Homo sapiens: one gene and its partners. The protein of the gene in region 2 purifies or fractionates together with the protein of the main gene of each other region. This does not show direct contact. Each region holds a gene or a part of one and is shown on either strand. Other genes may lie near its edges. The genes, in order: MTERF3, IGF2BP3, LRRC59 and PTCD1.

The links.
Region 1: the proteins of IGF2BP3 (region 2) and MTERF3 purify together in Homo sapiens (co-immunoprecipitation; 2 studies listed by BioGRID and IntAct, with this or other methods). This does not show direct contact.
Region 3: the proteins of IGF2BP3 (region 2) and LRRC59 purify together in Homo sapiens (affinity purification with mass spectrometry; 2 studies listed by BioGRID). This does not show direct contact.
Region 4: the proteins of IGF2BP3 (region 2) and PTCD1 purify together in Homo sapiens (co-immunoprecipitation; 2 studies listed by BioGRID and IntAct, with this or other methods). This does not show direct contact.

What each region holds. Positions count from the first base shown.
Region 1 is NC_000008.11:96,258,607-96,266,453, forward strand, and holds the start of MTERF3 (transcription termination factor 3, mitochondrial isoform 1 precursor), read right to left. Parts: upstream 3,005-7,847; 5' UTR 2,895-3,004; intron 95-2,894; 5' UTR 85-94; coding exon 1-84. Other genes in the region: PTDSS1 (phosphatidylserine synthase 1), read left to right, coding at 3,435-3,613.
Region 2 is NC_000007.14:23,313,468-23,320,494, forward strand, and holds part of IGF2BP3 (insulin-like growth factor 2 mRNA-binding protein 3), read right to left. Parts: intron 5,788-7,027; coding exon 5,671-5,787; intron 4,247-5,670; coding exon 4,172-4,246; intron 187-4,171; coding exon 55-186; coding exon of another isoform or gene 2-54; intron 1-1. UniProt on the Homo sapiens protein: RNA-binding factor that may recruit target transcripts to cytoplasmic protein-RNA complexes (mRNPs). This transcript 'caging' into mRNPs allows mRNA transport and transient storage.
Region 3 is NC_000017.11:50,394,524-50,402,390, reverse strand, and holds the start of LRRC59 (leucine-rich repeat-containing protein 59), read left to right. Parts: upstream 1-4,867; 5' UTR 4,868-5,073; coding exon 5,074-5,178; intron 5,179-5,887; exon of another isoform or gene 5,888-5,984; intron 5,985-7,398; exon of another isoform or gene 7,399-7,402; coding exon 7,403-7,462; exon of another isoform or gene 7,463-7,467; intron 7,468-7,867.
Region 4 is NC_000007.14:99,421,793-99,428,819, reverse strand, and holds part of PTCD1 (pentatricopeptide repeat-containing protein 1, mitochondrial), read left to right. Parts: intron 1-3,203; coding exon 3,204-4,025; intron 4,026-4,862; coding exon 4,863-5,045; intron 5,046-7,027. Other genes in the region: ATP5MF-PTCD1 (ATP5J2-PTCD1 fusion protein), read left to right, coding at 3,204-4,025, 4,863-5,045. UniProt on the Homo sapiens protein: Mitochondrial protein implicated in negative regulation of leucine tRNA levels, as well as negative regulation of mitochondria-encoded proteins and COX activity. Also affects the 3'-processing of mitochondrial tRNAs.

The DNA of each region.
Region 1 (7,847 bases), on a different chromosome or scaffold from region 2:
TTTTGTGAGTTGTGCAGCATTAATGAGGCTCCTCAACTTAACTGAGTTAAACCATCTGGGTATCTGTTGGGCTGACAAAGCCATTTTTCTTAGTCTACAAAGGAAAGATATAACCGTCAAAAGAAGAGAAATTTAATTTACTTAAATGTTTAAAACGGTATTCAAACAACAAAAAGATAAACTGGAAATTATTTTTTTCTAATTGAAAGGTGTTTAAATATATATTTAGTCTAAAATAGTGAGATGTTTCTTATGTACAGGAAAAGCCAACAACAAGGCAATCTCAGTTACAAACCAACAGACAGGAACTTCTGAGTGGAAAAATAAAGATATACTTTACAATTTAAAAACAAAATGCAATGACACTGGTGTAAGAAAAATGCTTAAAACAAAAATCTGCAAATGTTCAAGTGACAGCAGACCTCACTAATCTGTTAATTTAATCATTTAAAGAGAATAAGCTGATGCAAATAAGTGTTCTTGAAATTTGGTGTGAAGGGTGTTTCCGCAGCACATTGCTGATCAAAGTAACACTGAATTATTCAAATGCATTTTATGTATATAAATTTGTCCCAAAATGAAAAAACAGAAATCTACTGTGTCCTAAACAAATCATCAAAATATTATCATTGATATACAGAACAGTGAAAGCAGTTTCTTGCTTCATTCTCAGGGCTGAACACTGTTGATTACTTCACAGATAAAGCTGTTCTTCCAAAGGGAATTGAACAAAACCAGTTTTGTCAAGTTTTGTTTCACTGTAGGAAAGGAGAAAAAAGCCTTCAAAAAGAAAAGGTCAAAACTAGTAACAAAACCAAGTGACAGAAATAAATAAGCAACCAGCAATTAATACCTGTATATTTTGACTGAAAAAGTAGTTTTCAAAAATATTTTTATCAGGAAAGGCTAGTGCTATGTTAAACTCCAGGAATATGAAGGGATTTTATATTTAGCCAGCTAATTAGAAAGGTAAATTTGATGCATATAATCTTACGTTAAATAACATTATCCATATAAAACACAGGATGGAGTCAGGATATAAGAAATGCTCAATAAATGTTAGCCATTATTATTGGTTACACAACCAAATACAAAAATTCTGCTGAATTAATTGCTGCCTACAACTTTATACTTTGTTTTTCTGCATACTGGAATTCAGCTTGTTTTATGCTCTAAATTAGACCAAATACTTGAGGGTCTAATCTTTTCTTGGAGATCTGTAGTTTTGGGAAGTTTGCTGAAAGAGATTTTACAAAAGTGAAAGTTTCCTTTCATTCTGCAATTATTTATTATTATTATTATTATTATTTTTTTTGAGACGGAGTTTCGCCCTTGTTGCCCAGGCTGGAGTACAACGGCACCATCTTGGCTCACTGCAACCTCTGCCTCCCAGGTTCAAGTGATTCTCCTGCCTCAGCCTCCCGAGTAGCTGGGATTACCCACGCCCGCTACTATGCCCGGCTAATTTTTTGTGTTTTTAGTAGAGACGGGGTTTCACCATCTTGGCCAGGCTGGCCTCGAACTCCTTACCTCAGGTGATCCACCCAGCTTCCCAAAGTGCTGGGATTACAGGCGTGAGCCACTGCGCTCGGCCCATTCTGCGATGATTTTAGAAAAGAAGTAAGTATTCACAATACCCTGCTGGGATAGGTGGTTTCTGTTAGATTTTGGTGGGAAATGGGACTCCAAATGTGCCAAGTTTTCCCTCAAACCTACAACATTCATTCTCTGCACGGTAGTCATAAGGGCACTAAATTGAAAGTCAGAAGACCTCGGTTGTGCTACCTTGACAAGGCTGTTTCTGGCAGCAGTCTAACAAAAGCAGCAGTCTAGCCCATGATGTGGGGGGTGGGGGTGGGGTCAATAACTATTCTTCAAATAATGCTTTTTTAAAAGGCTAGGGGTACAATAAGATGATTCTTAAGGCCCCTATCAGCTCTAACATTTTTTGACGTCTAAGCACTTCATCCTACTTCAAACTCCTGAAATCCCAAATTCATCCTGAAGCCTTTCCACACTCAATACCACTTAAACATCAGGAAGACTCACTTTCAAATTTCACCCCGTCATTAAAAGATCTTTGTGCATACAACTAATGTTTATCCTTGCATTTTTATTTACAAGTGCACTATCTTCTCCACATCCTTTCATTGCTGCCTACACATCTTAACAATTGATTAACTGTTCATGCACGAGAGCAGAGCTGGGTCTCATCCCTGGATCCATCCTTCCGGGGACTATTCTCCACTTTCCCAGAGCCTTGTACTGCTCTAATGTTTGCGGAATGGAAATAAATCAATGGCAAGTACAGTTAACTCACTTGCTTACACAGTATGCAAAAGCGGGTAGGGGATGTGCAGATGTGTATAAAAGCCCTGTAAGGTGGTAACCTGAAGTCTTCTAACAAGGTCCTTTCATCAGGAAAATTACAGAAAACCCTTAAAGAAACTGAAGTCTCTTAACAATTCATATATACTGTTCTCAATGAGTGCCTAGTGCTTCGCTAGAAAAAGGCACTGAAATAGAGTTCAAGATTTCTACCTACGAAATGCTATAAATGAAATCAGGAGAGAAAGGGAGGTTATGGGGGCAGCTTCCTAATAAAGGGTCTCTCAATACTTCCCAGGCCATTTTAGCCCACTTCAGTTCCCCAAACTTGCGCAGGAAGGCAGAGCCCCCTCCTGAGGCTTCTCACACTGCGCTAATTAGCCAGCATGGTTGAGTTTTCACTACATCAGCCAGGGAAAAACACAAAACAAAACCAATCACCCTCTACTGGGCCGCGAAAACCTAAAGGCCCTTGAGGCCCTGGGGCGCGGTCTGGACGCGGGTGCGCCGGAACCTGAACCCTCGCCAGGAGCGCGATCCTCGTGCTGGGGCAGCTCCTGCTTTACCTGTGGCGAGGCCTGCTTCCCGTAGCGGGTGACCCCGGGACCGACCAACTCGCTGGGCCGCACGTCCCGTCCCGCCGCGCCGCACGCCGGCTCCTCAGCCCGCCCTACACAGCGCAGCCGCGCTCCCGGGCCCACGTGGGCCGCGCCCGGAGTGGGCGAGACCATGTGCCGGGTTACGCGGGGAGACAGCGGGCTACGTGCTCTGAAAAGAGCCAGCCAGGGGCCCCGGCTACCCTTCTCCGGCTCGCTATTCCTCTGAAGTCCTGTGGACTTGGAGTCTGAAAATTCCTCGAGTGGTAGAGATGCCTCAGCTAGGATGACAGCGTGGGGACGGCCGGCGGCGTCCCCTGCCCCAGGCCGCGGTGGCGGCGCCGCGACCCCGCCCTCTCGCGCCTGTCCTTCCCTCTGCTCCCAGCCTTTGCTGGGCGCCAGACCCGGCTTTGCCGTCCGGCTATTAGCCTACTGTGGCTAGTCACCCCCGGGGTCCCGGCCTTCTCGGGCTGGGGCCGCCGCCACCGCGGCAGGACGGGGAGGCGGGCCATGGCGTCCTGCGTGGGGAGCCGGACCCTAAGCAAGGATGATGTGAACTACAAAATGCATTTCCGGATGATCAACGAGCAGCAAGTGGAGGACATCACCATTGACTTCTTCTACCGGCCGCATACCATCACCCTGCTCAGCTTCACCATCGTCAGCCTCATGTACTTCGCCTTTACCAGGTGGGGCGGCCCAGCCGAGCGGGGGGCGCGTCCAAGGGCTAGGGAAGAGGCGGGAGGGAGGGTGGCGGGGAGGGGGGCCCGGCATGGCTCTGGGTGAGGAAGTGGGCTGGCTGCTCCACGCACACGCACTGGCAGCCCGCCGCCCACGCGGCCCCTCCGCCCGCCCGGTGTCTCACAGTACGCTAGCCTGCTCCCCTACCCCTCAGTGCCCCTTCTCCATACAGCGCCTCCGGTTACACGGGGAACGCACGCGAGTCACCTAGCACGATCGCCCCCTCACCCACCGCACTCAGCATCGCTCCACACAACATCACGACGCGGGCCCCTCCTCTGCACTGCTCCAGCCTTCGTCCCTACCCAGCACACCGCATGAATCATGTCGTATGCACCACTTTCAGCACACACCGCTACACATACAAAGCACCCCAATCCACAGCGCCTGCAGGCACCATACACAGGCCCAGGACACAACCTAGATCCCTTCCTGTGGAACTCCGGTATTCGGCACTATCCGTAACGCACAAAAAATGCACATGTGTGCTGCATACACGGTCTTTCCTGTGCAGCACTTCCCGTATGCATTGCACACAAGTCATCCAGCATAACACTTCCCCCAGCCTCAAACACTACCATCTGTACCACGGCACAAACTGCCACTCTAAACACACACCTCACAGCGGACCTTTCCTTTCCAGCACAGCCCAATACCCATCATCTGTGTACATGGCTGCACAGACACCAGCCCGCCACACATCACGCGGTGCATACCCTGCTCACTCATTACCTAACATACGTGCTGAAATGTGATCTTGTCCAGCAATTTTAATGGTGCCTGGGGTATAGTAACTGCTGTGTGTTAAATGAAACACATAAACCTCACACAGCATAACACAACTCTCTTATTCCCTGGAAAACATACACACACATTCTAATATATACCGGTTCATAGGAGCTGCCCAGCCCAAATCTTGAACACACCTCATGTTAACTCTGGCACTGCGCCTGTGGCTCCTCATTCCTAACCTAGAGAACTAATTCATCCTTGGTTCATAAGGAGGTACACACCGTGGTTCCTACTTAGAATGATTTATACTTTCTGAATGAACCTCTTTAAAGAAAGGGAAGTCACACCTCTCTCACCATTATGGCTTAAAAGGCCAACTTAGAGTAGAGTAGTTTTTGAGCCACACTTTTGGTTTCAAAACTGGCTGTGTGTCCTTAATTAAGTTGCATAACCTTGCTCTGAGCCTCAGGGGCCACACTCGTAAAATGGGGATGAAATATCTACTTATATAGGGTTATGAAAATTAAATGAATGTGTGTGAATGCATTTAGCAGAGTCCCTGGAGCACAATGTACAATTCATGTCAGTTACTTCTCTCCCAGTATTTTTATCCAACAATCAAGGTTCTCTGTCAGGGTCAGCAGAACATGTGTAGGGATATATATATTGGGTAGTCACAAGGATTGAGAGAACTTCTAGTATTTGGGAGGGGGAGCAGTTAACGGATACTAAATGTATTGTGACATATGTGACAGCGCTGTACAACATAAAGGGAATTGTCTTCTACACAGTCGTTTGCATACACACACACAAGTGCCGGTGGTGCCTCCCTTAGGAATAACTGCAGTTTTTCAAATCCTCATAAAACTAATATCCTCCCACATCACACTTGTTCCTTACCTCTGGGATTCATTTGACTCTTGGTTCTTGTTATGTAAGTGTTTATCCATTTGAAAGAATCTACCTAAAGGTATAAAGCTTAAGTAACAATTGCTTACTCTTTAATGATTGAGGGATCTTGCCACTATTACTATAAAATCTGCTAAAGCTGTGCAGCAGGTGAAGACCAGACCTTTCCACAGTACCTGACCAGACATATTTCTAGCTTTGGAGAGAAATGAATCATGTCCCTAACTATGGTTACTTTCAAATACTTCATTATGTTGCCTGATTTTATCACTTAATAGCTGTGTGGCCACATAATTTTGCTAGGCCTCAGTTTCCTTATCTGTATGTAAAATGAAAATATCAATACATTAATCTGTCGGGATTATTTGTCATGAGGATTAAATTCATCTTTTTAGATAATCTGTTTAGCTCAGTGCATGGCAAGTATTAAGTGCTTAATAAACATTAGTGGTTATTACGATGTGATTTCATTGAATGCTACTGTCTTCTAATTTATATTTATTATTGAACGAGGATGTAGTATGCTCTGTAATTGAGAAGGATAAAAGCACTGGAAAAATGGACATTAGATAACATACATACCTGTTTGATGTTAACTTCAGTTTAACTTCATCTTAGGTGTGGGCTTGAAATAATGAAATTAGTGAGGGAGTTTCTCTGGAAATTAGAAAAATAATTATGGTATTTTGTTTTAAATAATGAGAAGCAAGAATGAGCCATTTGTTTCAGCCTTTCATTTTTAATATTATTCTAGGTCCTTTCAAAATAGGTTTCTCTTCCTCTTTTCTGATATAAAAAGTCACAATCTTCTGAAATTTCCTTTTACATCATATTCTGTCAAGGCAGTCAATAAATTGCAGCAGTGAAAGTATAAGAAATGAATACGAATTTTAACAGCTTGTCCAAAATAATAGAAGAACCATAATCTGAACTTCAGACTGTAGTCTCATCCAAAAATGTTAACAATTTTATTTCTTCCACTAATTTCATAAAGAGACAGAAATCACATAATGAAGAACTAATTAATAACAAGTTTCACTTTATATAAAATCATAAGCACCATTAATAGAATTCGTACTTACTAAATCTTACTCATTTTTTGTAATGATTTGTGACTTAAGTGGGGCATTACAATGATAGCTCTATATTCCTCCATAAAGACGGAAAGTAACGACTTCTTAAATGAAAATGTATCCTATGTTCTTTTGTAATGATTAACTCCAGTGCCTTATTATTTATTTTATAAGATTTTAGTTGGACAATTGTTCAGTGCAATTCTTTCAGTAAAACTTAAAAGATATGTCTTAAAGTTTGTTTTGCAAAGACTAGTTGTCTAAGAGAACGAGGAGATAGGATTCTTTTGGGATGTCATATAACCAGTATGTGAGAAACAGTACTTGGGTACTGTCACATGCTTCAGAGATCCAGCAAGAATTTAAAATTACAGAGGATTAGATACCTTGCACTGAAGTCTGAGACAAGTTTGGATTTGTCAAGTAGTTCTTTTGTTAGATGGCCCTTAGGTCAATTCCCTGTTAAACCATAGTATTTAAATATCTCCTGTCTTTATCACCATCATTAAAAATAAAGTTAGATACTACCTAATCATTTTCCTATTTGAAAAAGCTCATTTCCAGCCTGGACAACATGGTGTAACCCTATCTCTACAAACAAACAAAACAAAACAAAACAAAACAAAACAAAACAAAAATTAGCTGGGCGTGGTGGCATGCACCTGGAGGCTGAAGTAAGACGATCACCTGAGCCTAGGAGGCAGAGGTTGCAGTGAGCTGAATCACGCCACCATACTCCAGCCTCCACCCTACTCACTCGACAGAATGAGACCCTGTCTCAAAAGAAAACCAAAAACTTATTTTCCCACATTTTAGAATAAGTAGGCTGGGTGCAATGGCTTACGCCGGTAATCCTAGCACTTTGGGAAGCCAAGGTGGGAGGATTGCTTGAGGCCAAGAGTCCAAGACCAACCTGGCTAACATAGCAAGACCCCATCTCTATTAAAAAATAAATAGTATTTTTATAAATAAATGCTTACGCATATGTCTTAGAAGTTTGTTAGCAAAGTAGGGCAAGGAAAACTTTTGTCTCAAGCTCAGAGTATAATAATTACCTATAAGATACCCTCATATTTACTCTGCATTCAGGGGTTGGTAAACTTGGAAATATTGAATGCCTTTAGTTTAAAAAACTCAAGCTTTAGATTTAGAAAACACCAGAATCTATTAATTCACATTCAAAGAAGCCCACCTCTCCTTAAGAGGCACCTGCCATTAAACAGTAGAATCAGCCTTTGTTAGCACTTGTCCAACAAAAATTGTTACTTACCTAGAAGACGTTGCCTTTCTGCGGATTTGTGTACTTAAGTGATCATCAATTTGTCTATGCTTCATTTCTCCTCGATTTAGAACTAAGGAGACAGGCAAGGACAGGGAAATGGACAGACTGATTGATTGACTGATTGATTTGTTAATAATGGTTTTTACTTAATTTCCCTTATTGGCTTTGGAACTCCAGTTCACCGTC
Region 2 (7,027 bases):
CCTTTCAACGCTTTCCCTTTCATACCACTGCACAGGTTTTGCTGAAGTACTTGCCGTTTTGCCTCCTTTTCCAATAACTCTGCCAGCAGCAAAGGATGGCACTCTGATATGAGCTTCAAGTTTCACCTCTTCTTTAGGACTAACAAAGTTTTCTTCTTTAATTTTTCCATAAATTCTTCCCTGAGCCTGCAGATGAAAACACATCCTATTAGTGTCATTCATGTATGAAATGGAAAAGGTCAGTTAACTTGAAAGATGGCCCAAATCCAAGTGGGATAGCCCTTTGCAGTGATACATCTACATTTCATAGATTGTTGAAAATAACATAGAAGAGAGCAGTTAGAAGTCCTAAAAGGTTGACAATAACTACTGCCCATCACAGTAGAGGCAACTGAATGCTTGGTGAAAGAAGGATAAACCATATTCTTCTGATGAAAACAGTTAAAGGCAATTAATAACCTAATAAAAACGAATTTTTGTGGGCAAATGGCCATTCGTACTAAAATTGTGATAGGTAAAACTTCTCATGCTGGCCATGAGACATCAGTTGCATTTTTCTTTCCTTTTTGTTGGAGTCAGGGTCCTCCTGTTGTCCAGGCTGGAGTGCAATGGTACAATCATAGCTCACTGCAGCTTCAACCTCCTGGGCTCAAGCGATCCTCCTACCTCAGCCTCCTGAGTAGCAGACTACAGGCATGCAACACCACACCTGACTTATTTTTTTTTTTTTTTTGAGACGGAGTCTTACTTTGTTGCCCAGGCTGGAGTGCAGTGGCACGATCTTGGGTCACTGCAACCCCCGCCTCCCAGGTTCAAGTGATTCTCCTGCCTCAGCCTCCTGAGTAGCTGGGACTACAGGCACTAGCCACCACACCTGGCTAATTATTTTTGCATTTTTAGTAGGCATGGGGTTTCACCATGTTGGTCAGGCTGGTCTCGAACTCCTGACTTCAAGTGATGTGCCCACCTCAGCCTTCCAAAAGTGCTAGAATTACAGGTGTGAGCCACTGCGCCACTAATTTTTATAGAGATGGGGGTCTTGCTATGTTGCCACGCTCATCACAAACTCCTGGGCTCAAGAGTCCTGCCTTGGCCTCCCAAAGTGTTGGTATTACCAGTGCAAGCCACCACACCTGGTCACATTTTTTTTGAGCAAAAGAGACAGAACTGCAGAGTCAGCTATGCCAAGCTCACTAAAAGTCAAGCTCACATCTACATGGGCCAGTTAGAAACCTGCTGAGAAAAATGTTTTCAATTTAAATGTGTTTCATACTCTTAGAAAGGTGGTTTTTCCTTTGAATATTTTAAAGAGGCTACAACATCAAGGTAAGACACTTTTTTCTTTTTTGAGACAGAGTCTCACCCTGTCATGCAGGCTGAAGTGCAATGGCATGGTTTCGGCTTACTGCAACCTCCGACCCCCGGGTTCAAGCCATTCTCCTGCCTCAGCCTCCCAAACTAGCTGGGATTACAGGTGCCCGCCACCACACCCAGCTAATTTTTTGTTGTTATTTTAGTTGAGACGGGGATTCACCATGTTGGCCAGGCTGGTCTTGAACTCCTGACCTCAGGTGATCCACCCACCTTGGCTTCCCAAAGTGTTGGGATTATGGGCATGAGCCACTCACTGTGCCCTGCCTTTTATTTTTTTTTATTTTTTTATTTTATTTTTTTTAGAGACAGAGTCTCTTTCTCTGTGGTGCGATCTCAGCACACTGCAACCTCTGTCTCCTGGGTTCAAGTGACTCTCCTGCCTCAGCCTCCTAAGTAGCTGGGATTACAGGCATCCACCACCATGCCTGGCTAATTTTTGTATTTTTAGTAGAGATGGAGTTTTGCCATGTAGGCCAGGCTGGTCTGGAACTCCTGGACTCAAGTGATCTACCCACCTAGGCCTCTCAAAGTGCTGGGATAGCAAGCGTGGGCCACCGCGCCTGGCCAAGACACTTCTGATATTTAGAGTCAATACATCCTATCACCTACTGCATGCAACTATATAAACAACCTATTATATATAAACAACCTATTACATACAGCAAAGCAGAAAGGAGCCTGAGAGTTGGTTTGACAAGCTGCCAGGGTAAACCACAAAAAACAATAGTACCCAACACGCGTTCACTGATTCAGAAAGCTGAGCTCATTTTAGGGCACTACCGACAAAACAAAATTCATCTTGATACCCTATATTCCAATGATCCTTAATGCCTCAGGCCAATGACGTAGATATTACTATTACTTAAGACAGTCAAAAAGACACTAGGGATATACACTATCCTCCAAAACTGAAGCTCTTGAATTTGTAAGGAAAAATACGGGGTAGGTGGTTTACCATTCCTTAGATCTCTAAAGTAAAACATTCATTTAGCATTGTCACCAATCACATAAATAAAATTTAACTACTATGGCTTAAGTGTTACATTTAAGTTAACTATAAAACATGAGTTTTATTAGTGAATACAGGGAAAGAACTTTGAAGTTCCTATCATACAAACATCATAGGAGTTGCAGGACAGTAATTCTACTTATAAGACTAAAAGCTCAGCACCAAGGAAAGACATGTTTGTATTTATCTTTTAAGATTTCAAACTAAAAGTGACCCTGAGAGTTTGGGATAGGAAGCAGTTTTCAACAATTCTGAGTTAAGATTTGAACTGCCTGGATCACAAGGCTGCTGTGAAGGAATAAATTTCTTCACATGATTTTCTTTCTTCACCTAACCACCCACATCTCAAAGCACCTCCTTCGTTTCCCATTCTTCACATAAGTGAAAGCAGCTTTGGGTTTTTAGTGAAAAAATGGCCCAGAGAAAATAGAAGTCAAAGAAAGTGATTTTTTTTGTTTGATTTAAGGGAGAGAGGTGGGGTGGGGAGAGAACTGTATGCACTGTTACTAGTTACTGTTACACTTTAAGGCTAAAAAAACTAAGGCTTGGCCAGGAGCACAGTGGCTGATGCCTGTAATCCCAGCACTTTGGGAGGCTAAGGTGGGCGGATCACTTGAGGTCAGGAGTTTGAGTGTGTGGCCAACATGGTGAAACCCCATCTCTACTAAAAATAAATTGGCTGGGCGTGGCGGCACATGCCTGTAATCCCAGCTACTCGGGAGGCGGAGGCAGGAGAATCGCTTGAACCCAGGAGGTGGAGTTTGCAGTGAGCTGAGATCACGCCACTGCAGTCCAGCCTGGGCGACAGAGTGAGACTCTGTCTCAAAAAAAAAAAAAAAAAAAAGAGAAAAAAAAAACTACAGCTTAAGGTTAAATAGTTGTCTTCTTACACAGCCACTAAATGTTCTAAGACAAGACACCCATACTAAATTTTGTGGGAGAAATCATACACTAAAAGGAATATATTTATGAATTTGGCATGGTCTTAGTCTGATTCATCCATAGTCTGTTGAATACCCCCAGCACGCTAATTTTGTGCTGCCCATGTGTTAGGCACTTTTCTAAACATTTCATATATTGTGTAAACCTTAAACTACCTTAGGATGTAGGTGCTCTTATCCCTGGTTTTACAGAAAAAGGTTAAGTAACTTGCCCAATGTCATACAAGGCAAATGGCAGAGCTAGGATTTGAACTAGCAGCCTGGCTGCCAAGTCTCAGCTCTACCATCTCTCAGTAGACATTGAAAGGCACACTGCAGCCCCAAAGACCTCAAATCCCACTAAACGTGCAATGGTTCATACCAGAACAAATGCTACAAGAGCTCCTGCCATTCCTATCTCTAAGATCCCAGGGATTAGAGAGATTTGTAGAGTCTATGGGCAGGGTCTAACAGAGATAATCCAAGGGTAAGGAAAAAGGGGGCATTTTAATTCAAGTCTAGGCAATCTCAGGGACAGGAGGGAAAACATCTGAAAACAAGTTTCCAAGGCATATTAACCTGGCAGGTTTGTAAATTTTAAGGTCTCACCTTAGCATAGGATTACAAACCATTAAGCAAAATTAACCTTTGAGAGACAGGTAAATCCAGCAACCAGTACAGAACTCTTAAAATTAAAGACTTTTGGTTAATTTCGAAATATAATTTTGAGTGTGATTCTACTCAGCTCTTAGATAAGAATTTCCATTGACTCTTTCTGAGATTTAGACATATTTAAGGGAGACGCCAGGTTATGGACTACCTGTGCATTTGTTACCTGTGGACATAGCACATACTCTAGAGCACATACCTTGAACTGAGCCTCTGGTGGTCCAGTGATAATCACCATCCTCACTTTAGCATCTGGTGCTTCCGCTGGAGCAATCTGTAACAGACCCAACAACAAGTTATGATACTTTCAGGTATCACTGATAGGCATCTTGGGCCAACCAGCCTAACATTTGCATGTGACTGGCTGAAATGCAGAATTAAAGCCTTCGTGAAGGAAATTAGGGAGAGGCAGCAATTCCTGTGGGTTCACAATTTAGGCCTCCCTCCTGCATATACTATATGCTTATTCTGTGCCGGGCCCTAATGGAGACCTCCACGTGCTGTCTCTCAGCTAATCCTCACCACGTCCTGATGAAGTAGTATTACCTCCACTTCACAAATGCGGAAATGGAAGGCTGGAGAAATTGAGTTATCTGGACCATGATCACACAGCTAACAGAGCTAGAGGGAGAGCTGGGTCTGTCTCCATTGCCTGTGTTCACTACACCAGTGGTGCTCAAAGTATGGTCCTTGGCCCACTTGCATCAGGGCTCCTTGGGCTTCCTGTGTATGCAACACACTCTAGGAATCTCTGTACCCTAAGTTTCAAGGATACTGCACACCACATGCCTTTGTTTGTCTGAGGCAGGGTCTTACTGTGTGGCCTAGGCTGGAGTGCAGTGGTGTGATCATAGCTCACTGCAGCCTCAACCACCCAAGCTCAAGTGTTCCTCCCACCTCAGCCTCCCAAGCAGCTGGGACTACAGGTGTGTGCCACCATGCCTGGCTAATTACACTTTTTTTTTTGTAGAGATGGGGTCTCACCATGTTGCACAGTCTGGTCTTCAGCTCCTGGGGTCAAGCAATTTGCCTGCTTTGGCCTCCCAAAGTGCTGGGATTACAGGTGTGAGCCACCGCACCTGGCCAACCTTTATTTTCCTTAAATAAGGCATCAAAATACAGAATCTTCAGAACACACAGTTATCTATTACGGCAGACACCATTATTTGTCCTCTGGTATGTTACCTTCTGTAGTTACAAAATGTTTAGCTGACTGTGCATAGCCTGTATTTTGCCCCTTCAACTTCGTCTGGCCAAGTTCTGGGCAATGGAAATATAGGTAGAAATATCCCACAGTAGCTAACAAGAAACCTCCCTAGAAGAAAAGCTCTTTATTATGTTCTCCTCTCCTACTGGCTGGGCAACAGACCTGATTCCTGGAGCACTGAATGGTGTCAATCTGGAACCAAGAGGGACCAAGGCCGTACCTGGGGAAGGTGGCTTGGAAGGAACTTAGGTCCAAGGACTTGGTGGGGGCAGAGCCAACACCCAGCCCGGATGTTCACCTCCTAACTGTGTTTTCTGCACAGAGAAGTTAGCCTCCTTGGTGTAAGCCACTGTTGTTTGGGGGTTTCTTCATATCCTTATGTAACCCTAACAGTGTCTTTTACATTCTATTCAAATTATAAAGTGGCAAGAAGATTCATATTTCTGTAACTTACTTAAAGAACCAGAGAACCACAGCTGGTAGAACAGTACCTTAATTGAAGCTCCAGCAAAGCGAGAAAGCTGCTTGATGTGCTGGCCCTGCTTGCCGATGATGGCACCGACTGATAGAGCTGGGATAAACAGATGAACAGTCTCCGTTTCTGATTGCTGTTAGAAAAGAAAGCCAGGACACCCATGTTTATTTGCTACAAATCAGGCTTTTGTTAACATTAGCTTTAGGAAGGACACCTTCTCATGCAGTAGGAATACCAGGAAAGTTTAAGGAAAAGCTACCATAAGAAGTTGACCAGACCTTACCTAATAGGTCAAGAAGATCTCATACAGTCATCCTGAAAACAGTGGTATTTAAAATTTCACTTTTCTCTACTGTTGCCTTAAACTTTAAAATGTCACTGAGTTATGGATTTAAAAGATATGTAGATGTTGTAAAGTTTAATCATATTAGAATAGCGGGACATGCTTGCATTAAAAATTAAGTAAGAGCCCCCTACCACTCTCAAGGTAGATTCTTAACAAGTAAATGAAATTCTGGGCTACATATCAAACACAACAGAACTCAAGGACGCCAGCTCCACACCTTATCTATGTAGGTTTCACTCCTTAAACACATACACAGTGAAGTGTTTAAGAGAAAAGCTGAATTTTGTTACATATGACTAAATTGTATGAAACCTTACCACTGTCATTCAATAGTTATCACATCCAAGCACAGGACAGGATTAGGAGAGAGCTAATTCACTTTAGTGGTAAGATGCCCTAAGATGCTTTCCCACAGAATTCCTTATTCCTTCCATCTGTGCCTTCCCTTTGCTTTTTTTTTGAGATGGAATCTCACTCTTGTTGCCCAGACTAGAGTGCAATGGCACGATCTCGGCTCACTGCAACCTCCACCTCCCGGATTCAAGCTACTCTCCTGCCTCAGCTTCCCAAGGAGCTGAGATTACAGGCACTTGTCACCACACCCGGCTAATTTTTTTTTTTTTTTGTAGAGATAGGGTTTCACCATGTTGGCCAGGCTGGTCTTGAACTCCTGACCTCAAATGATCCACCCGCCTTGGCCTCCCAAAGTGCTGGGATTACAGGCGTGAGCCACTGCGCCCAGCCCCCTTTGCATTTTATACATGAAAAAATTAGAAAATATTTTGTAGGCTAACTCCTGAAAGGTCATTCATAAATAGATTTTATCTATGTACCTCATTCCTTCACTACTTCCCACTTCAAGCCAGTTGTGCCCTTCCTGGGTCTCTTTTCAAATAGTCCTTGCAGGGATAAAGGACACATTTGCTCAAGAGTTCACAGTGACTGGGCTCCTAAAAAGGCCAATTCAAGGTTCAAGGTTCAGTAATGCTACCAGTCAACTAACAGTTCTAAAGTACAGAAGCAGTGC
Region 3 (7,867 bases), on a different chromosome or scaffold from region 2:
AAAAATACAAAAAAAAAAAAAATAGCCAGGCGTGGTGGCGGGCACCTGTAGTCCCAGCTACTCGGGAGGCTGAGTCAGGAGAATGGCGTGAACCCAGGAGGCAGAGGTTGCAGTGAGCCGAGATCATGCCACTGCACTCCAGCCTGGGCAACAGAGTGCGACTCCGTCTTAAAAAAAAAAAATAGACCTAGGTAAATTCTCAGATAACCCTGATGGCTATATTGATGTTTTACAAGGGTTAAGACAATCCTTTGTTCTGACATGGAGAGATATAATGTTACCGCTAGATCGGACACTAACCACAAATGAGAGAAGTGCCGCCATAACTGCAGCCCGAGAGTTTGGCGATATCTGGTATCTCAGTCAGGTCAATGATAGGATGACAACAGAGGAAAGAGAACGATTTCCCACAGGCCAGCAGGCAGTTCCCAGTGTAGACCCTCATTGGGATGCAGAATCACAACATAGAGATTGGTGCCACAGACATTTACTAACTGGCGTGCTAGATAGAAGGACTAAGGAAACTAGGAAGAAGCCTATGAATTATTCAGTGATGTCCACCATAACACAGGGAAAGGAAGAAAATCCTACTGCCTTTCTGGAGAGACTAAGGGAGGCATTGAGGAAGCATACCTCTCTGTCACCTGATTCTATTGAAGGCCAACTAATCTTGATAAGTTTATCACTCAGTCAGCTGCAGACATTAAAAAAAAAACTTCGGAAGTCCACCTTAGGCCCGGAGCAAAATTTAGAAACCCTATTGAACTTGGCAACTTCGGTTTTTTTATAATAGAGATAAGGAGGAACAGGCAGAACAGGACAAATGAGATAAGAAAAAGGCCACCGCTTTAGTCATGGTCCTCAGGCAAGCGGACCTTGGAGGCTCTGGAACATGGAAAGGCTGAGCAAATCGAATGCCTAATAGGGCTTGCTTCCAGTGCGGCCTGCAAGGACACTTTAAAAAAGATTGTCCAAGGCCGGGCGCGGTGGCTCACGCCTGTAATCCCAGCACTTTGGGAGGCCGAGGCGGGCAGATCACGAGGTCAGGAGATCGAGACCATCCTGGCTAACACGGTGAAACTCCATCTCTACTAAAAATACAAAAAATTAGCTGGGCGCGGTGGTGGGTGCCTGTAGTCCCAGCTACTCAGGAGGCTGAGGCAAGAGAATGGCGTGAACCCAGGAGGCGGAGCTTGCAGTGGGCCGAGATCACGCCACTGCACTCCAGCCTAGGCAAAAGAGTGAGACTCTGTCTCAAAAAAAAAAAAAAAAAAAAAAAAGATTGTCCAAATAGAAATAAGCCACCCCTTGTCGATGCCCCTTATGTCAAGGGAATCACTGGAAGGCCCACTGCCCCATGGGACGAAGGTCCTCTGAGTCAGAAGCCACTGACCAGATGATCCAGCAGCAGGACTGAGGGTGCCTGAGGCAAGCGCCAGCCCATGCCATCACCCTCACAGAGCCCTGGGTATGCTTGACCATTGAGGGCCAGGAGGTTAACTGTCTCCTGGAAACTGGCGTGGCCTTCTCAGTCTTACTCTCCTGTCCCGGACAACTGTCCTCCAGATCTGTCACTATCCGAGGGGTCCTAGGACAGCCAGTCACTAGATACTTCTCCCAGCCACTAAGGTGTGACTGGGGAACTTACTCTTTTCACATGCTTTTCTAATTATGCCTGAAAGCCCCACTCCCTTGTTAGGGAGAGACATTCTAGCAAAAGCAGGGGCCATTATACACTAGAATTAGGAGAAGGGAAAAGGGTAAATATATATACAGACTCAAAGTATGCTTACCTAGTCCTCCGTGCCCATGCAGCAATATGGAGAGAAAGTGAATTCCTAACTTCCAAGGGAACACCTATCAAACATCAGGAAGCCATCAGGAGATTATTATTGGCTGTATAGACACCTAAAGAGGTGGCAGTCTTACACTACCGGGGTCATCAGAAAGGAAAGGAAAGGAAAGAAGAAATAGAAGGGAACCGCCAAGTGGATATTGAAGCCAAAAGAGCCGCAAGGCGGGACCCTCCATTAGAAATGCTTATAGAAGAACCCCTAGTATGGGGTAATCCCCTCCAGGAAACCAAGCCCCAGTACTCAGCAGGAGAAATAGAATGGGGAACCTGACGAGGACATAGTTTCCTCCCCTCAGGATGACTAGCCACTGGAGAAGGAAAAATACTTTTGCCTGCAGCTAACCAATGGAAATTGCTTAAAACCCTTCACCAAACCTTTCACTTAGGCATTGATAGCACCCATCAGATGGCCAAATTATTATTTACTAGACAGGCCTTTTCAAAACTATCAAGTAGATAGTCAGGGCCTGTGAAGTGTGCCAAAGAAATAATCCCCTACACTACAGGCCATACATTTCAATCCCTGTATCTTTAACCTCCTTGTTAAGTTTGTCTGTTCCAGAATCGAAGCTGTAAAACTACAAATGGTTCTTTAAATGGAGCCCCAGATGCGGTCCATGACTAAGATCTACCGTGGACCCCTGGACCAGTCTGCTAGCCCATGCTGTGATGTTGGTGACATCAAAAGCAACCCTCCCGAGGAAATCTCAACTGCACAACCCCTACTATGCCCCAATTTAGCAGGAAGCAGTTAGAGCGGTCATCGGCCAACCTCCCCAACAGCACTTGGGTTTTCCTGTTGAGGGGGGCACTGAGAGACAGGACTAGCTGGATTTCCTAAGCCAACTAAGAATCCCTAAGCCTAGCTGGGAAGGTGACCGCATCCACCTTTAAACATGGGGCTTGCAACTTAGCTCGCACCTGATCAATCAGGTAGTAAAGAGAGCTCACTGAAATGCTAATTAAGCAAAAACAGGAGGTAAAGAAATAGCCAATCATCTATCGCCTGAGAGCACAGGAGGAGGGACAATGATCGGGATATAAACCCAGGCATTCGAGCCGGCAACAGCAACCCCCTTTGGGTCCCCTGCCATTTTATGGGAGCTCTGTTTTCACTCTATTAAATCTTGCAACTGCACACTTTTCTGGTCCGTGTTTGTTACGGCTTGAGCTGAGCTTTTCCTTACCGTCCACTACTGCTGTTTGCTGCTGTCGCAGACCCGCTGCTGACTTCCACCCCTCTGGATCTGGCAGGGTGTCTGCTGGGCTCCCGATCCAGTGAGGCGCCCATTGCTGCTCTGGATCAGGCTAAAGGCTTGCCATTGTTCCTGCGTGGCTAAGTGCCTGGATTTGTCCTAATTGAGCTGAATAGAGCTATAACACTCATTGCATGGCCCAAGATTCCATTCCTTGGAATGCGTGAGGCCAAGAAACCCAGGTCAGAGAACAAGAGGCTTGCCGCCATCTTGGAAGTGGCCCGCCACCATCTTGGGAGTTCTAAGAACAAGGACCCCTGCCACCCACCCCCCGTAACAATTGCACTTACTTTATTTGGTGTTCATAGTTTCCCTCTGAGACAAGATTTTTTATTTTTTATTTTTTTAGAGATGGGGTCTTGCTATGTTGCCCAGACTGGTTTTGAACTCCTAGCCTCAAATAATCCTCTCATCTTGGCCTCCCAAGTATTGGGATTACAGGTGTGAGCTATCCTGCTCGGCCCCTCTGAGATAAGCTTTAATATCCCTATTTCAAAATGAGTAAACTGAGGTTTGGAGTGGGTAAAGTGCTTCCTTCCTTCATTCATTCATTCATTCATCCATCCATCTATTCATTTATTCAACAGACATCTGAATGAGTAGCTACCCTGCATCAGGGTATGCCAACTCTGGGCATACGAAGATGATTAAGACAAAAATCCCTGTCCTCACAGTCCAGAATGAAGGACAGACACATAAAGATGAGTATAATACAAGGTGGATCATGAATTGTAGCTAATATTTATTGGGTACTTACTAAGTGCCAGTGACTGCTGTAAGCTCTTGGTGTGTTTTACTCCTTCAGTTCTCCCCAACCTCTGTTAGCTACATGTCTCATAGATTGATTCATAGATAAGACTGAAGCCTGGTGATTGTCTACGGTTTTATAAGTAGCAAGTGGCAGAGCCAGGATGAATACCCAGTGGATAGGTATTAGTGCCAGAGGTCCCACTTGGCCATCAAGCTCTACTGTCTCTGATGATAAAGTAGCAAACAGGGACCTAAGTTGGTTGGGGGGGGCGCTAACTCAGTCTGGCATTCACGGTGTTCAGGGGAGATTTCCTGAAGGACTAAGGAATTAGCTAGACAGAGGTGAGTGGGGGGGAGGGAGGGCCATCGCTGGGGAGGGCCAGACGTGGGAGCCACCTCCTGGAAATCTACACAGCATCTAGGCCAGGCAGGGACTGGAGCGTGTGAGGAAGCTGCGAAAGCAGGCAGGACCCAGCTTCCAAAGGAAAGTGGTCCGTATCCTAGAGGTAGCTGCAAGTTTGAAGGGTTTTACGTAGGGGAGAGACTTGGCCAGATTTTTAGAAAGATCACCGGGGAGCTGGGTGAAAGTGGATGGAAGGACAGAGACAAGCACTGAGGCAGTGAGTGGGGAGGAGAGAGGAGAAATTCAGGAAGAAGAGTTTTCCCCATGATGGTTATTCGGGGGTTAAGTAGAGGACAGGGAGCAGTTTTAGAGGACACCCAGCTTCTGCTCCTAATCAGGGGGATTGGGGTGATCTGATGAGGTCAGTATTGGATGTCAACCCAGTCTTCTGGCGCCCAGTCCGTGCCCTTTCGCCTCGTGGCACTGCCAGCAATAATGCCCGCGGGCCACGGGTGAACGTGAACCGAGCTCGCAGCCTCCAACCCCACCCCTCCGGCGGCGGCGACGTGCAGTGCATCACCCTGGGCACCAGGGGGCGTGCCCGCACACGCTCGGGCCGCTCTGGCCCAGCCCATCTCAGTGGTCGCGGAAGGTGACGTGGACACGGAAGTGGTCGTCGTCGCGGCACCGGTGGGAGCTAGGCGCGAGGCTCGGAGTGCGGCCAGCGGGCGGAGGCGGTCTCGCATCGGCGGCGACGGAGGGCTCAGGCGTCGTCGTTTGGGTGGGGGGCCGCTGAACTGACAAGCGACATTTCAGCTCCTTTCACCCGCCGGAACCCCGGAGCCGGGGCCCGCTCAGCCGGCGTTACCATGACCAAGGCCGGTAGCAAGGGCGGGAACCTCCGCGACAAGCTGGACGGCAACGAACTGGACCTGAGCCTCAGCGACCTGAATGAGGTCCCGGTGAAGGAGCTGGTCAGTATCGTCCCGCGAGGCCCAGGCGCCCACCTTCGCCGGGCGCTGGCCCCTACGTGGGCCACTTACTTTCCTCTTCTCTAAAAGCATCAGTTTCCTTTTCTTTAAAAAGAAGCGGGGTGGTGGGACTAAGTCCCCTAGGAGGCCGCGTCCAGCCCAAGGTTCTTCCCGGGATGTACACGTGTCACTTTGGCGCAGTTCCAGAACATAGGGAAGATCTGCTTCTCTGGCCCTAGGCTTTTTACAGGCTAAGAAGCGAATCTGTCACCTTTGCGGGGCTTTCACAGCGCCCACCTCCGTGCCCGACTCTGAGTAGGAGCACACGGAGCAGTTACTGGATGTATTCGAGAATGAATGAGTGACTTGTTCCAGGGGAGTAGGCCTCCTGGTAGACCTGGGTGTGGCCCAGAACCTGGCTCTTCTAGGAAGCTGGCAATTCCAGCTGGCTGCCCGAGCCCTGAGGCAGCCTAACTCGAAGAAAGTAAAGTCTCCCCCCAGCTTGGCTGGTAAACTGTCATCTGAATTCCGCTGAAACTGGCGGGAGTCCCTTTCGCCCCTCTCTCCCCCAACCTTTCCCCTGTAAACTGAAGCTTACAGCTCCAGAGAGATAGCAGGCATCTAGTTTTGTCAGCGTGGAGCTAGTTCCCACATCCCTCCTTTTCCCACTCCGTTCCCCCTCCCACCCGCGCCAACGCCCTACTAGACTCACTTTGGGTGACCCACACTTTGCTTTCTGCCGTTGATAAATTACATTTGCCTTGGGCGCTGGGCCCAGTCTTTCTTCCACCGTGGACGGGTATTACAGTGGTTAGAACCGGGTTCCTAGCTCCTCCCAGCTCCATTGCTTAATAGCCGAGTGCCCTTGGCAAGCTAGTTAGCCTTTATGCCTAGATCTCCTCATCTATACAATGGTGATAATAGTTTCCATCTCATACGCTTATTGGGAGGTTAAATACCATTGTAATGGAAAATGCTTGGAAGGAGCAAATACTGATACTTGTAGCTGTTGTTGTGTTTTTCCCGCTGTAGTATTTAAAACTTTTTTAGGTGGTCAAACTTCACTTTTACGACTTTGTGACAGAAAGTGCAGGTTGCCAGAGGATCCTTAACTGAATATATGCCTCCTTTTCTACCCCAGGAAGATAGATGGCCAGCCTTATTTCACCCTGCCCTAGGACTGCTCTCTGAAACCATATACTCCAGGCATCTGAACAGTCCAGCATTAACCTTAGGGAGAAAGTTTTGCTGAGCTTGTCCAGCCTGGACACCATGGGAAAATAGAGATGGGCTGTGAGGGCCTTTTTTTTTTTTGGATGATGGAGTTTTGCTGTTGTTGCCCAGGAGTGATCTCGGCTCACTGAAACCTCTGCCTCCCGGGTTCAAGCGATTCTCCTGCCTCAGCCTCCCGAGTAGCTGGGATTACAAGCGTGTGCCACCATGCCTGGCTAATTTTCTATTTTTAGTAGAGACAGGGTTTCTCCGTGTTGGTCAGGCTGGTCTCGAACTCCTGACTTCAGGTGATTGCCTGCCTCAGCCTCCCAAAGTGGTGGGATTACAGGCGTGAGCCACCGCACCCGGCAGGGCCTTGTTTTTTCACTCTGTCATTCACTCCGCTACTTACTCGATCAGTCATGATTCAGGCAACATGTATGGATATTGAGTACCTGTTCTGAGGAAGGGCCTGAACTGGGGAATATGGAAATTGCAAAGCTTTATTAGACACTGTCCCTGCCCTGAAACCTAATAAGAGGGACGCTGGGTAATATTTATTTTTAAAGTGCTAGGAATAATGTCTAAGAATCTAAATTTTGCTTGCCTGCCTGCCTGCCTGCCTTCCTTTCTTTTTTTTTTTTTTTGAGATGGGGTCTCACTGTGTTGTGCAGGCCGGCCTCAAACTCCTGAACTCCTGGGCTCAAGCGATCCTCCTGTCTCAGCTTTCTGAGTAGCTGAGACTATGAGACTACAGGTGTGAGTCCCTGTGCCTCGCCTAAGGTTTACCTTCTTGGAGGTTGTACAGCCACATCCCTTCTCTTTGCATTCTTCCTTAGATCATGGTTGACTGGCTTATTTTTCCTCTTATTCCCAGGAACATTACTCTTTACTGCCATTTTAAAAGGCCTTTCCTAATCATGGGAACATTCTCTGGAAAATGCTTCATTAACATATGTCAGTGAATTGTTCCAGATGTTGGTCTGACATGTTTTTCTCATCCTCTTTTACCTAGGCTGCCCTTCCAAAGGCCACCATCCTGGATCTGTCTTGTAATAAACTGACTACTCTACCGGTAAGATTGGCATGCAGCCGTGACTCCTTCTGGTGCCTTGGATGCATCTCCTTCCTGTTTCGGGGGTTGAGAGGGGGGTGGGAGGGTGTCATAAGGTGTAATTTCAGGATAGGCCTACAGGCAGGCTATAGCTAAATCTGAGTGTGTAGGGGAGGCACAGTGGAATGGAGTGGTTGGTCTCAGTGGGAAAGGAATTGAGATGGAGGCCTCATTCTTCAGAACAGTGGTAAAGTCAGTCCACAGAAAACTAAACTCAACAGGGTGCTGAGTAACTTACTGGGCTCATCTTTTTTCTACATTATTTTATTCCTCTGAAAAATAGTTTACCTCCCTACTGCATAGAGGATGCTAGAGACCATTTTGTAAGTTGCTCTGCGTTCCAGGGAGAAAGCTGTGAACAGCTTC
Region 4 (7,027 bases), about 76 Mb from region 2:
GACTTGTTCAACCCTCCCACACCCCCATTAGCACTTCTGCAGGTGCAACCCAGGAGTCATTCATTCATTCATTCATTCATTTATTTTGAGATGGAGTCTCACTCTTGCCCAGGCTGGAGTGAGCGATCTTGGCTCACTGCAACCTCCGCCTCCCAGGTTCACGCGATACTCCTGCCTCAGCCTCCCGAGTAGTTGAGATTACAGGCGCCCGCCACCACGCCCAGCTAATTTTGTATTTTTAGTAGAGACGGGGTTTCACCATGTTGACCAGGCTGGTCTTGAACTCCTGGCCTCATGTGATCTGCCCGCCTGGGCCTCCCAAAGTGCTGGGATTACAGGTGTGAACCACAGCTCCCCGCTGGAGAGCTTTTTTTTTCTTTTTCTTTTTAATGTTTTTAATTTTTTTTTTTTTTTTTTGAGATGGAGTCTTGCTCTGTCGCCCAGGCTGGAGTACAGTGGCATGATCTCGGCTCACTGCAAGCTCCACCTCCTGGGTTCACACCATTCTCCCGTCTCAGCCTCCTGAGTAGCTGGGACTATAGGCGCCCACCACCATGCCCAGCTAATTTTGTTTTTGTATTTTTAGTAGAGACAGAGTTTCACCATGTTAGCCTGGATGGTCTCGCTCTCCTACCTCGTGATCCGGCGCCTTGCTCTCCCAAAATGCTAGTATTACAGGCGTGAGCCACCGCGCCCGGCCAATTTTTTTTTTTTTTTTATTGATCATTCTTGGGTGTTTCTTGCAGAGGGAGATTTGGCAGGGTCATAGGACAATAGTGGAGGGAAGGTCAGCAGATAAACAAGTGAACAAAGGTCTCTGGTTTTCCTAGGCAGACGACCCTGCGGCCTTCTGCAGTGTTTGTGCCCCTGGGTACTTGAGATTAGGGAGTGGTGATGACTCTTAAGGAGCATGCTGCCTTCAAGCATCTGTTTAACAAAGCACATCTTGCACCACCCTTAATCCATTTAACCCTGAGTGGACACAGCACATGTTTCAGAGAGCACAGGGTTGGGGGTAAGGTCACAGATCAACAGGATCCCAAGGCAGAAGAATTTTTCTTAGTACAGAACAAAATGAAAAGTCTCCCATGTCTACTTCTTTCTACACAGACACGGCAACCATCCGATTTCTCAATCTTTTCCCCACCTTTCCCCCCTTTCTATTCCACAAAACCGCCACTGTCATCATGGCCCGTTCTCAATGAGCCGCTGGGCACACCTCCCAGACGGGGTGGTGGCCGGGCAGAGGGGCTCCTCACTTCCCAGCAGGGGCGGCCGGGCAGAGGCGCCGCTCACCTCCCGGACGGGGCGGCTGGCTGGGCGGGGGGCTGACCCCCCCCACCTCCCTCCCGGACGGGGCGGCTGGCCTGGCAGAGGGGCTCCTCACTTCCCAGTAGGGGCGGCCGGGCAGAGGCGCCCCTCACCTCCCGGACGGGGCGGCTGGCCGGGCGGGGGGCTGACCCCCCACCTCCCTCCCGGACGGGGCGGCTGGCCGGGCGGGGGGCTGACCCCCCCACCTCCCTCCTGGACGGGGTGCTAGCCGGGCAGAGGGGCTCCTCACTTCCCAGTAGGGGCAGCCGGGCAGAGGTGCCCCTCACCTCCCGGACGGGGCGGCTGGCCGGGCAGGGGGCTGACCACCCCCACCTCCCTCCCGGACGGGGCGGCTGGCCGGGTGGGGGGCTGACCCCCACCTCCCTCCCGGACGGGGCGGCTGGCCTGGCGGGGGCTGACCCCCACCTCCCTCCCGGACGGGGTGGCTGCCGGGCGGAGACGCTCCTCACTTCCCAGACAGGGTGACTCCCGGGCGGAGGGGCTCCTCACTTCTCAGACGGGGCGGCTGCCAGGCGGAGGGGCTCCTCACTTCTCAGATGGGGCGGTTGCCAGGCAGAGGGTCTCCTCATTTCTCAGACGGGGCGGCCGGGCAGAGACGCTCCTCACCTCCCAGACGGGGTCGCGGCCGGGCAGAGGCGCTCCTCACATCCCAGACGGGGCGGCGGGGCAGAGGCGCTCCCCACATCTCAGACGATGGGCGGCCGGGCAGAGATGCTCCTCACTTCCTAGATGGGATGGCGGCCGGGAAGAGGCGCTCCTCACTTCCTAGATGGGATGGCGGCTGGGCAGAGACGCTCCTCACTTTCCAGACTGGGCAGCCAGGCAGAGGGGCTCCTCACATCCCAGACGATGGGCGGCCAGGCAGAGACGCTCCTCACTTCCCAGACGGGGTGGCGGCCGTCTTGGCACTTTGGGAGGCCAAGGCAGGCGGCTGGGAGGTGGAGGTTGTAGCGAGCCGAGATCACGCCACTGCACTCCAGCCTGGGCACCATTGAGCACTGAGTGAACGAGACTCCGTCTGCAATCCCGGCACCTCGGGAGGCCGAGGTTGGTGGATCACTCGCGGTTAGGAGCTGGAGACCAGCCTGGCCAACACAGCGAAACCCCGTCTCCACCAAAATAATACAAAAACCAGTCAGGCGTGGTGGCGCGCGCCTGCAATCGCAGGTACTCGGCAGGCTGAGGCAGGAGAATCAGGCAGGGAGGTTGCAGTGAGCCGAGATGGCAGCAGTTACAGTCCAGCTTCAGCTGGGCATCAGAGGGAGACTGTGGAAAGAGGGAGAGGGAGACCGTGGGGAGAGGGAGAGGGAGACCGTGGGGAGAGGGAGAGGGAGAGGGAGAGGGAGACCATGGGGAGAGGGAGGGGGAGAGGGAGAGGGAGAGGGAGAGGCCCGGCCAATTTTTTAAATGTTTTACAGTTGTTTTGAGACACTCTCGCTCTGTCACCCAGGCTGGAGTGCTGTGGCATGATCACGGCTCACTGCAACCTCGATCTCTGGGTTCAAGTGATTCTCCCACTTCAGCCTCCTGAGTAGCTGGGACTGTGGGCATGCAATACCACACCCAATAATTTTTGTATTTTTAGTAGAGATGGGGTTTCACCATGTTGGTCGGGCTGGTCTCGAACTCCTGATCTCAAGGAGTCTGCCTGCCTTAGCTTCCTAAAGTGTTGGGATTACAGGCGTGAGCCACCGCGCCTGGCGTATTTTTTTGAGGCAGGGTCTTGCTATGTTGCCCGGTCTTGTCTCGAACTCCTGATCTCAAGGGATCCTCCCATCTAAAACTCCCAAGGTGCTGGGATTCCAGGCGTGAGCCCTGCGCCCAGCTGCTGAATGGGAGCACCCAGCTGACGTTTGTCTCTTCCGTGGCAGGTGTGGCGGCTGATGCTGAGTCTAGGGCTACAGCCGAGCCGGGACAGCTACAACCTGCTGTTGGTGGCAGCTCGGGACTGTGGCCTAGGGGACCCCCAGGTGGCCTCAGAGCTGCTTCTGAAGCCCAGGGAGGAGGCGACTGTGCTTCAGCCCCCAGTGAGCAGGCAGCGGCCAAGGAGGACAGCCCAGGCCAAGGCAGGCAACCTCATGTCAGCCATGCTGCATGTGGAGGCCCTGGAGAGGCAGCTGTTTCTGGAACCTTCTCAGGCACTTGGGCCTCCAGAGCCTCCGGAAGCCAGAGTGCCCGGCAAGGCCCAACCAGAGGTGGATACTAAGGCAGAGCCCAGCCACACAGCAGCCCTCACCGCAGTGGCCCTGAAGCCACCTCCCGTGGAGCTGGAAGTCAACCTCCTGACCCCCGGGGCCGTTCCCCCTACAGTGGTCTCCTTTGGAACGGTGACCACCCCAGCTGACCGGCTGGCCTTGATAGGGGGCCTGGAGGGCTTCCTGAGCAAGATGGCAGAGCACAGGCAGCAGCCCGACATCAGGACCCTCACGCTACTGGCCGAGGTGGTGGAGTCCGGGAGTCCTGCAGAGTCCTTGCTGCTGGCCCTCCTGGATGAGCACCAGGTAGAGGCCGACCTGACATTCTTTAACACGCTGGTGAGAAAGAAGAGCAAGCTGGGAGACCTGGAGGGGGCCAAGGCGCTGTTGCCGGTCCTGGCAAAGAGGGGCCTCGTCCCCAACCTGCAGACATTCTGCAACCTGGCCATCGGGTGCCACAGGCCGAAGGACGGTCTACAGCTTCTCACAGACATGAAGGTGAGTGGACTCGGGCCTGGGCAGGACACCCATGGTGCTCAGGAGCACTCTGCAGCTCAGGAGGAAAGTTTGAGGGGTCTGCAGACCCCCCACCTGGAGAGGATGAACTGTGCATGGGGCAAAGAGAGTGGGGTCAATGACCTTCTGGTCTTTGGTCCCATTTTGGGGGAAGCAGACCCCAGTGAGTGCTTCAGGGCTGGGCGTAGAGACACACGGATGTTCCCATCCGGAAGAAGGTGGCCGTGGGTTGACACAGGGCTGGGCACAGGCCTCGGCCCCAACACTCTAGAGGTATGGCAGGGATTCTCAGAATTCCTGAGGGGCCGTGGGCAGTTTTCAAAGCCCCCGAGGTCTGTGCCTCCCACCTAACCCCCATTGGAAGTGCTGCGTGGATTTCATCCGACCACAGCAGAGGCTGCGTCCTGGGTTGTCGGTGTCCCCAGGTCCATCATCCTCTGGCTGTTTTCCTGGACCCTACCGGGCTCACCCAGCCAAGGCTTGCACTTTTCTAGGCCAACCACCACCTGGTGACCGTGCGTCACAGGAAGCCCACCCCAGGGAGCAAGGAGGTGGTGTCTCCCACATCATTTTCTGCCTGAGTCAGTCGGTGTCTGAGAGCAGCACGAGCGTCCTTTTCCGCAGCTTCTTTAGGGCTGAGCAGAGGGGCTGGGCTTGGCTTTCCTGCTGGAGAGGGATATTCAGCACATTGTTGCTGCCAAGTTTGCCTTGCTGGCCCTGGCCGCTGGTCCCGGGAGCCAGCTTGATTGACAGAGGGTGGGAGCTGCTGGGTCCCAATGGCTGCCATCATCTTGATTCTACGATGTCCCTGTGTTCTAGAAGTCCCAGGTGACCCCCAACACTCACATCTACAGTGCCCTCATCAACGCGGCCATCAGGAAGCTGAACTACACCTATCTCATCAGCATCTTGAAGGACATGAAGCAGAACAGGGTCCCGGTGAACGAAGTGGTCATCCGCCAGCTGGAGTTTGCAGCCCAGTACCCTCCCACCTTTGACCGGGTGTGTGCCCCAAGCTCAAAAGCTCATCAGCTCCTTCACCATTGCTACCCCCTCCCCCCACCACCCAACCCCGGTTCTGGCCCTTGGGATTGTGTTGCCATGCTTGAAACTGTCCAGCAGCTTCCCTTAGGAGCAGTACCCAAGTCTGTAGACCACAGCCTGCGAGTCCCTGTCTGCGTGGCTCATCTCATGTCTCAGCCTTGCGTTTGCTTTCTCTGTCTGTCCCAGTGGCCTTCTGTCAGTTCGCAGAGGCCACCAACCTCTTGCCTGCTTCGGGATTGGTGTTCCCGCTGCCTCAGGTGGCACCCACTTTTCCTGGAGGTCTCTGCTTAAGTGGCCCTCAGACATGCCCAGCTGGCTGCCGCTCTGACCTGGGATGAAAGTCTCCCCTCCCCCTTCCCACTCTGTTCCTTTATGCCGTGTCCTACAGTCTTGGATCATGTGCTCATGGGCAGCCCTGGCCTTCCCTGTATCAGGCTTCTGGAGGCAGAGGCTGTCTGCTGTGCTCATCTGGGTCCCCAGCACCTGCACGTTGCTGGGTACTCCAAACAGGTTGTCGCTTGCTCAGGGACTGGGCAGGCAGTGAAGTGGTGTCATTGTCTGGGGTGAATACCTGAGATTTGTTGTGAGCCAAGATCGCGCCACTGCACTCCAGCCTGGGCGATAGATGGAGACTTGGTCTCAAAAAAAAAAAAAAGAGGTTAAGAGCTGAAGTTTAATAGGCGAAAGAAAGAAGAGCTCTCGCCCGGTGTGGTGGTGAAAAAAAAAAAAAGAGAAGAGCTCTCTCCTTGCAGAGAGAGGTGCCAGAGAAGTGGGTTGCCACTTCCATAGTGTAATGCAGAGGTTTTGTAGATGAGCTTGGGGAGGTGGTGTCTGATTTACAGAGGACGCAAAAGATTAGTTGGACCAGGTGTGCCATTTACATAGCATGTATAAAAGCTGGTGCCCCACCCTAACCTTTTATTATGCAGACAGGTGGCCATCGCCATGTTGCCTGGTTCTTTACTGTACACATGGCAACAAAGAAGGGAAGATGGGGCCCCCACGTTGAACATATCTGGCTCCCAGGTAGCCCTTTTCTGTTGGCACAGCCGCCAGCATTTACCCCTGCAAGCTTCCAGTTTGCTTATCTATGTCTGCAGCTCGATTTTTCAGGCTGCTCTTTGTTAGAAAAGAAATTATTTGGGGGCTGCTTTTTATTAAAAGGGAAATTTCGCCAAGGACTCTGTTGCCCTTATTATCTGCCTAAATAATTTCTTTCAACCTCCTGTATCAGCAGGAGCAGGGCAGAGTCATGGAATCTGCTTTGTCACGGCCACAGCCTCTCCCTGCTGTTCTGAGGCTATCAGGCTCTGGGGTTTGGCTTTTGGGTCCATCGAATCACACTCTGTGCTGAGCATCTCCGGAGCATCGAGAGCCACTATGGCTTGAAGCACAGCCCGGATGGGGCGGAAACAAGTAAATGGGCAGGGACACACACAGCTAGAGGGTGCGGGGTCAGGAACGCCGTGCAGGTGTCACGCCTGAATGCCATTTTGAGGGCTTCCTACAAATAGGTGGGACAGCAATGGAAATTGTGTCTGGCTGAAGGCATAGCTGGGCATTTTTGAACTGTGTCTGTGCTTTGAACTGTTGGTTGCAAGCCTTTTCTCATTGATTCCAGGGTTTTTTATATATTCTGGGTACTGGTTTTTTGTTGATCACATGTTGTGCATATCTTCCTAGTGGATTGTCTCTTCCCTCTGGCGTAGGGCTCACTAGGGGTTCAACTCGACAGTCACAAGACTATCATAGACCTAAAGCATATCATATTTAAGTCACAGACAGATGTCCCTGACTTAAAGATGATTCTACACAGGATTTTTCAACTTTGCAATGGTTTTATCAGGATGTAACTCTGTAAGGATCGACTTTGTGCGGGGTTAGTTTCTACTGAATGTATATCACTTTTGCATAATTATAAAGTCAGGACCCTCTGCTGT